2 separate regions of the Homo sapiens genome follow, and region 1 is linked to region 2. Evidence: fine-mapped QTL for protein levels in blood plasma. Region 2 holds a variant in brackets. A gene starts in the other region. All regions are shown on their forward strands.

Region 1 (3,998 bases), not on the chromosome of region 2:
GCCTAGCACAGAGAAGCTGGACCAGGGTTAGGGGGGCCCTGCAGCAGGAACGTGCATCTGTGCAGAGCAGACTAAGTGCTGGGCCGGAAGCAATCCTTCAGGGGCCCTAGACAGGCAGCTCTGTGACCGCCAAGTGTAGAATGTGGCTGTAAGAGGCTCAGAACATCACCTCCCAGGCTGGGAGCTGCAGTGTGTGTGTGTGTGTGGGTGTGTGTGTGTACAGTTGGGGGAGGGGGGAGAAAGAAAAGTGGGAAGATGCCCCTCCAACTCTAGGACCCCAATTTCCTGACAGCCTGAGAAAGACCACAGAGCAAGGATTGAGGTCTGTGCAGGGGAGCAGTGTCTCGGACTCTGCTCAGCTCCAGGCTGGCTGGACCTTCCAGGCTCCCCAGGCACACCTGAGAGCCTACAGCCTCTGGACCCAAGAGTGCCAGCCAACACGCCTACAACCGCCCAGCCTCCTACCACCAGCCTGTCTGCAAATTCAGTCCTAAGGCAAATTTGGAAGAGAAACAAAAGGCAGACAAGAAGCCCTGCTCCTGGCCCTTCCCAGCCCAGACTTTGGGGAGAAAGGCCCCGCAGGGCATCCCTGCAGGACGAATGGGCACCAACAGGAACAGGAGGAAAATAACCCCAACTTTAACTGCTGGAAACCCAGCAGCACCCCAGGTTCCCCTACAAACGGCTTCCCAGAAGAGCTGCCCCGGCACCCCTCCCATGCTCTGTGTCCTCACGCAGCTCAGCTCTGACATGGGGCTGGGGGACCCCAGAGAAGGGGTGTGGCAGCACAGGTTCCCTGGACCAGCTCAACTACCCCCAACCTGGCTGGTAGCTTCCTGGGGAAGGTGGTCCCCCATCGGGTGGCTTTTGTTCCTCTCTCCAGGCAAGCCTGTGCCTGGAAGAATTCGGCTGGCAGGCCCCACTGGGAGGACAGGCGGTACTGCCTCCTCCCCGCCCCCAGCCCCAGGTCAACAGGGCCTTTGTTCTACCTGCACACACCGGCAGGCAGGCGGGCAGAGCCAGCCCCCTTCCCTGGCAGCTCCCCCACCCTCTGAAGGCAGGCACTCCAGGCACAGGGGCGGCACCTCACTACTCTCACTTCCACTTTTGGGACCACAGCACCGAAGCGGCACGGGGAAGCCAACACTCCAGGTAGGCCACGCACACACCCAGAAGCCCGCGTCCCCAAGTCCGGCGGGCCAGACCTCACGGCGCACAGCAGGTAAGGTGGCCCGAGGGCAGCGGGCGGGGACCCTGGAGAAAACCCGGGCGCTGCGCAGTCAAGCCGGCAGTAGGGCAGCACAAGGCAAGGAAGAGAGTGAGAGCGAGGTCAGAAAGCGCGGTGACAGCCGGCTCACCCAGAGGAGCTGGGAGCCTCGGGCGCTCGGCAGGTCGGGAGGGGTGCCGGCGAGTGGGGGCCCCCAAGAGGGCAGAAGGGGGTAGGGAAGGCAGGGCCGACCCAGTACAGCACGGCGGGCATACGGCCCGGCCTCGGGGGCGCAGCTGCGCGAGGATCCCGCCGCCCGGGCGCTCACCTGGGCGTGCGCAGCGCGGCGGAGTCGCGGCGGTCCAGCACGCCGGGCACGCAGTTGGTGAGCTCGGTCCAGTCGGCGTGCAGCCCGCAGCTCCAGCCGGTGGAGAAGCGGGAGAAGAGCCAAGTCTCGCGGCGGTTGGGCCGGTAGCAGGTGCACTTCTTCTGGCCGGGCCGGCAGTCGCACGGCACCTCGAGGCGTACGTTCTGCACGAGGTGGCGGCCGAAGGTGGTGCCGCCCGTCTTCTGGATGTGCAGGAAGACGATCACGTCGTCGCCCTTCATGTCGAAGCGCAGCGAGCGCTCCAGCTCGCGGACCGGGAAGTAGTACTTCTTCTCGTAGTGGGGGTCGGGTGTGGGGAACAGGTCCAGGTCGTCGGGCGGCGCGCGGCCGCCGGGCGCGCCCAGGCTCAGTCCTGGGCCCGCGTACTGGTACAAGATGAGCATGAAGCACACCGAGCCCGCCACCACCAGCACGAACTTGCTGGCGCGCTCAACCATGGTCCTGCCGCCGGCGCGCCGCCGCCGCATGTGTCACCATCGCCGGGGCCCGGGCGCGGGGCGCGGGGCCTGGGAGGGCAGGAGGCGCGGGCGCAGCTGCCTCCGCCGCCGCCCGCGCTCCGGCCCGGCCCGGCTACTCGGCGCCCAGGCCGCCCGCAGCGGCGCGGGCCCCGACCCTCCGCGGTGCCATGGCTGCTCCCCGCCCGGCCCCGGCTCCCCGGGCCCGACGCCCGACTCCGCTCCCGCTCGGCCCCGCTCCCGGCCCCGGCCAGCACAGCGCTCTCCGCGCCCCCAGCACCAGCCCGCTCCGCTCCACTCCGCGCCGAGAACGCTCTGCGCCGCCCCGCGCGCCGCCGCGTCTCCGCAGTCCGCCGCCGCCGCCCCGCCCCGGTCCGCCCCTGGCCCGCCCCCGTGGCGTCTCTTGCCGTCGCCGCCCGCGCCGATCCTCGGCCCCGCCTCCGGAGTGCCGGGGTTCGCCGCGGGTGCTGGGCGCGGGACCTGGGTCTGCTGCGGTGGCGAGGCCGCTAGCAGGCGGGCAGCCAGCGACTGGGAAGTGATTCCGCCCTCAGGGGAGTGGGGGACCAACCGGCAGTGCGGAGCCGAGGCGTGGGAGGCTCTCCTGGCGGGGGCCGCGGTGAGGGGGCGCGGCGGCTGGCGCTTCTGGAGCCTGGGTCCGTACCCCCTCCTCCCCAAGTCCCAGCCGCCCACGTCCCCGCAGCCCGCGCGGGAGGAAAGGCCTTGACCTTGCACGCTGGGGCGCTGAAGTTAGACGCTAGCCTACTGGGCTGCACTTCCAGGGACCAGGGCGGCGGGGGCCGCCCACCACCAGGACCGAGAGGGAAAGCGAGGCTTTCCTTTCCTGCTCGACCCCCTCACCCCTGCGGCTGGCTTTGGGACAGTGCCCCGCAGCCCCGCATTGAAGAGATGTTGGGCTGTCTGCAGAGGCCTGCGGAGCGGCTTTATGGCTTCCTCCTTGTTTGAAAAGAATATCAGACGAGGTGCATTTTCCCCCATCCATGTTTATTATACTCCAATGAAAGAGTTATAAAACATTGAGCCAATTCTTAAGAATCGTGAGTGCCCACCAAATATTCTGTCTTTCGTGGGTTGGTTGGAGAGTCCAGCGGCCCGGGCCCAACCTGGCTGCGGAGGGCTCGCTCCACGTTGGCTCGTGTGTGGGCCGGGTGGTGCGGGCTCCTCACTCGCCGCCGCCCAGCCTGGCAAGCACGCGCGGCATTCGTGGGGCGGGGGGTCCCGCCAGGTGCCCACTCACACTGCTTGGGCTCTGGCAGTACTCGGAGGCTGCAGCCCGTCGGAAGCGCAGGAGTGGGGCTGGGACCTGCCAGGATCTCACAGCTGCAGGGCCGGCCGCGGTGGGCCCTAGTGTGTTGGTTCAGGCCAGCGAGGGCTCTGGGAGCGAGTCTGGCTGCCAGGCGTGGGCTCCCAGTGTCCACGTCAAGCCCTGCCGGGGACGGGGTGGGGGGGGAGGCGGGGTGGTGCCCTGCCTTCCGTTCTGTTAGGGACCGGAAGCGATCATGGGGTGTCAATTATGCCTCAGTAAAGCTGTTAAACGTAGACAACATCACACCAGAAAGCCCTCCTGGAAGCAAACCCAGAGAGCTGGAAAAACCAACACCCCAAACCCAGCTGAGCGGGCGGCATGCATTTTCCAAAGGGACCGCAAGAATATCCGCTGTGGACAGGCGGGTGCAGAACCCTCAACACAGCCCAGCGCACCCTGGAGTCCATGGTGTGGGGTCCTCAGTGGGACCTAGGGCCCCAAAGCCCCTGCTCATCTTGTAGGCTGCTTTAAAACTGTCCCTGGCCCGAGGGTCCTGGGGGCAGCTTGGACAAGCTTCTCCAGAAGTGACTCATTCCTATAGGAGTGGGGGTGCAGTCCCCATGGGACACAGGTGGGGCCGCCCTGCAGTGTGCTTGGACCTGCCTGCAGCCCCTTGACGCAGTC
Region 2 (4,509 bases):
CCATGGCCTGTGACACAGCCCTCAGGAGACCCTGAGAACACGTGCCCAAGGTGATCAGGGCACAGTTTGGTTTTATACATTTTTGGGAGACACGAGACATCAATCAATACATTTAAGATGTACATTGGTTTGGTTCAGAAAGGCAGGACAGCTCAAAGCAGGGGCTTCCAGGCTATAGGTAAATTTTAAATTTTTCCAGTTGATAATTAATTGAGTTTATCTGAAGACCTGGGATCAATAGAAAGGGAATGTTTAGGTTAAGATAAAGGGTTGTGGAGACCAAGTTTTATTGTGCAGAGGAAGTTCTCAGGGCAGACTTCAGAGGGAGTAGGTTATAAAATGTTTCTTATCAGACTTATAAGGGTGCCTGGCTCTTTGTTGATTATCTCCTGAGTCCGGAAAGAAAAAGAAAAAAATGGGGGGAAGGGGATTCTCTATAGAATGTGGCCTTTTCCCACAAGAGACAAACTTGTGGAGCAATTTCAAGATATGGCAGGGAAATATATTTGGGGTTAAAATATTTTTATTTCCTCCCTTATTATGTGATGTTATGCTAGAGTCAGGTTAGAAAGCAGACCACGCTATATAGGGTTAAAATTAAAACCTCCTCCGATAAGACTTTATGGTTTGTAGGGCATGACTCCCTAGGCTCCTTAGGTAGGAATTTGGGCAAGATAAAAAAAAAAAAAATCAGAGTTTAGTCCTCAAAGGACTGGAATAATCAGGGAAGACTTCATGGAGGAAGCAGGTCTTGAGAAGAATCTTAAGAATCTGGGTAAGTGGAATAGAAGGCATCCCAGGCCAGGGTAACAGCATGAGCAAAGGAATAAAGGTAGGGAGGAGAACAGTGCTGAAAGCCCACATACATCTTGGTACTGCTTTCTCCATATCACAGATGAAGAAACTGAGGCTCAGAAAAGTAGAATAATGTTCCCCTGGCTGCACTACTAGTGTAGAAATCAGAAAAGCTAGGCTTCAAATTCCATCTATCTGACTCCAAAGCTCATCACTTTCCCAAGATCCACACTGCATTCTATGGCACAGCTCTGAGGGGGTGTGAGGGGAGGTGATGGGGTAGGGCTGGATTCGGTTGACACCAGAGATGATTGTATCTCTTCACAACTCCACATCCAGTGATGTCATGTTGGTAGCTTGTCATCAGCCATGGTGGGAGTATTTACACCAAGGAAATTGGCAACCACTACAAATCAAAGTTTTGTTAGTTTGGTTGATTGGCTGGTTGGGTTTTCTTCCCCCATGAATAGCTAGTTACTATAAAGTTAGCAGCACACCACTGGCTGGATAAGAACCATGGAAACCAGGTAAAGCAGTGTCTAAAGGCAGGAGAAGACCTGTGCTTAAAGCACTGGAAATCAAGGAGCCCATGAAGGAGAAGATGCCAGGGCGGTGGGTCTTAGGATGAAGGCTCTGACACTGGAATGCAGTCCACATGGAGTGTGGAGTCAAGCCCCAGAGGCCATGTAGGAGGGGCTGAGTACTAGGCCTGGTTTGGGGAGGGGCACTGGGGCAGTTGAGCATCCAGGAAGAACATGGCTGATAACCCAGAGCACGTGGCAGGCAGCCTTTTGAGAGAAAGAAAAGAGTGTCTGTGAGCTCCATGAGACTTCAGACCTTGCCTCATTCATCTGTGTCCCTGGTGCCTAAAACCATGCATGGTACAAAGGAGGCTCTATGCAATTGCACCAAAAAAAAAAAAAAAAAAAAAGAGAGAGAGAGAGAGGCTGAGGCTGTAGAGGAGTTTATAGAACAATTGAATCAATGATTAAGCAGACAAGTGATACTGATGAAGCTGAGATGCCATGCCTGGGAGAGCCATACATATCTAGTAGATTTACCAGGTTAGAGGACTTGACTCCGTTTTTTTTTTTTTTTTTCCAGTAGAGATAGGGTTTCGCTATGTCACCCAGGCTGGTCCCGAACTCCTGAGCTCAAGCCTGGAGTTCAGTGCCTGCCTCGGCTCCCCAAAGTTCTGGGATTAGAGGCATGAGCCACCGTGCCCAGCCAGAGGACTTGACTCTAATTGTTTTCGTTCTCAACCAGCTAGGTGATCCTGAACAAACCATTATCCCTTTCTTTTATTTATTTAATTATTTTTTTTTTTTTGAGGCACAGTCTTGCTCTATCACCAGGTTGGAGTGCAGTGGTGAGATCTTGGTCGGCTCACTGCAACCTCCGCCTCCCGGGTTCAAGTGATTCCCCTGCCTCAGCCTCCTGAGTAGCTGGGACTACAGGCACACGCCACCATATCCAGCTAATTTATATATATATATTTTTAGTAGAGACGGGGTTTCACCATCTTGGCCAAGATGGTCTCGATCTCCTGACCTCGTGATCCGCCCGCCTTGGCCTCCCAAAGTGCTGGGATTACAGACATGAGCCACCACACACGGCCGCCATTATCCCTTTCTTGGCCAGCCTCTGAATCTGTGCGATGAATAATTTGTACTGTCTTTGGTTTTGTATAATTCTGGATGAAACAAATTTCTAAAAATTTCCAAATAAATTGCTGCAGGCTCAGGATTCATTCCAATGCTCAGCAGAAAGGCAGCAGGGCTTGGCTGAAACAGCCTGGACTTGGACTC[T/C]CGAGGCTTGAGTCAGAGGACCGGCCCCTCGTGGGCTGGGCGTGTGTGTGGCTTAGGAGGAAATCCCTTCCTCTCTGGGCTTTTTTCTCTCCATCTGTAAAATGGAGCGGCTCCCCAGGAAGCCAGTCAAGGACGAAGTTACGCATGTTCTTTCCCCAGGAAGGCTCCACTTCCCAAGAATGCTTGGCACCCCTTGTCGTCCCAGCAGATGGCAAAGAGGTGAGAGGAGCCTTTGTCTTGGACCGGCCCCAGAGGCTCCGTCATCCCTCTTTGGTTGTTTCTGGTGCTTAATTGCCTCTGGTTTTAAAACTCCTTTCCCTGAAGCCACATTAGTGGGTAATCAATAGGGAAAAACCACAAGTGAACTGCACTCAAAAAAGTAAAATCCCTTTGGTTCCCTCTTGAGAGGAAGAAAAACATTCAATAAGCACTTAATGGAACCCGATTACTAGCAAATAATTCCTCAGAACAACGCTTTGAGGTAGGTTTTATTATCCCCACTTTACAGAAGAGGAAATAATAACACCTATTACGTATTAAGCATACACTGCATGCAAAGCACTGTTCTAATTACTTGCCATGGAATGTTGCGCTTATTCCATGGAACAATCCTGAAGACAGGGACTATCATTAATCCTGCTTTATATATTAGAAAACAGAGGAACGAGTGTGGTAGTGCAGGCCTGTGATCCCAACACTTTGGGATGCTAAGGTGGGAGGATCACTTGAGGCCAGGAGTTTGAGACCAGCCTGGGCAACATGGTGAAACCCCATCTCTACTAAAAAATACAAAAAATTAGCCGGACATGGTGGCACACGCCTGTGGTCCCAGCTACTTGGGAGGCTGAGGTGGGAGGATGGCTTGAGCCCAGGAGGTTGAGGCTGCAGTGAGCCTTGATGGTGCCACTGCCCTCCAGCCTGGGCAAAAAGTGAGATCCTGTTCCCCTGCCCCCCGCCAAAAAAAAAAAAGAAAGAAAGAAAAGAGAAAACAGAGACTTTGAGAACCTATTATTTTTGCCTCAGGTCGTAGAGCCTGTGTCAGAGACTCAGTGCAAACCCCGATTTGATGATTCCAGAGTGCAGCCCTAACTGCTGTGCTATGTTTTCTCATTCATTCATTCATCCATCTATTAAATATTTAGCAAGGGCTAACTATAAGGGCTTTGTGAAAGATGCTGAGATATAAGGTCAGTGAAAAATAGATATGATCCCTCCTCATGTCTGGCAGAGAAGACAAATACTGAGTAATTTACCCATTAATTAATTAAAATTTGCAACTATAATATGTTCTGCAGAGCCTATAATAGGGGAACTGACTTGGTCAGGGCAGTGGGAGACAACTGCCCTGTGTAAGAGTTGATTGAGCTCAGATCAGAAAAATGAATGGGCATTATCAAGGGGGAAGGACAAGGAAGCTTATTTTGTGTGTCTGGGAGGACAGGGCAGGGGTAGAGTTTGAGAAGTGGACTGTGGCCAACCACATAGGGTCTCACAGGCCACATGAAGGAGTTTGGACTTTATTCTAAGACCATGCAAAGTCTTGAAGAATTTTAAGTAGGGGGTGACAGGACCTAATTTGTCAGATGTGCATTTTGCAAATATTAGCTACATGAAAGGGCAATGTGGAGAGTGAATTAGAGAAGACAAGCGTGGATGAGGAAAGACCTGGTGGGGGCTTAAAGATAATGGGGATTGGAAGAGGGTGGTAGTGGGGTGGAGGTAGGGAAAAATAGTGGATTTGAGAAATAAGTAAGGAGTACAATTGGCAGGGCGCATGATGGATCAACCTGTACGCAGGAGTGTGATGTTTTTCTTCTGACACCAAATTGTTTGGGGTTTTTCCCACACTAACCACTAATTCTCCAGCTTGCCAACACCAACTGGGTATCCCGCAATTCAATTCAAT

Which allele goes with the higher level. Positions count from the first base shown, and alleles are read on the strand shown. Strength reflects both the effect of a copy and how common the allele is.
With allele C in place of T in region 2, the plasma level of the protein whose gene starts at base 2,367 in region 1 is lower (strong association).

What was found. PIP is the chance, under the fine-mapping model, that this variant and not a neighbour inherited with it causes the effect. Protein levels are from antibody-based Olink assays in UK Biobank. Linkage for the fine-mapping came from a reference panel and not from the study's own genotypes, which makes the PIPs less certain.
Region 1: HS6ST1 starts here. The variant in region 2 is fine-mapped to the plasma level of the HS6ST1 protein (UK Biobank, PIP above 0.99).

What each region holds. Positions count from the first base shown.
Region 1 is chr2:128,316,502-128,320,499 of GRCh38, forward strand. HS6ST1 (heparan sulfate 6-O-sulfotransferase 1) reads right to left here and starts at 2,367. Exons shown (of 2, transcript NM_004807.3): 1 at 1,536-2,367. The coding sequence starts at 2,062. RefSeq lists an enhancer at 225-374 and silencers at 1,376-1,605, 2,300-2,709.
Region 2 is chr17:28,390,003-28,394,511 of GRCh38, forward strand. All of the region lies in intron 7 of SARM1 (sterile alpha and TIR motif containing 1), which reads left to right. Among named protein-coding and RNA genes, the nearest start is that of SLC46A1, 14 kb to the right of the region's middle. The variant T/C (reference allele first, on the strand shown) is at 2,604.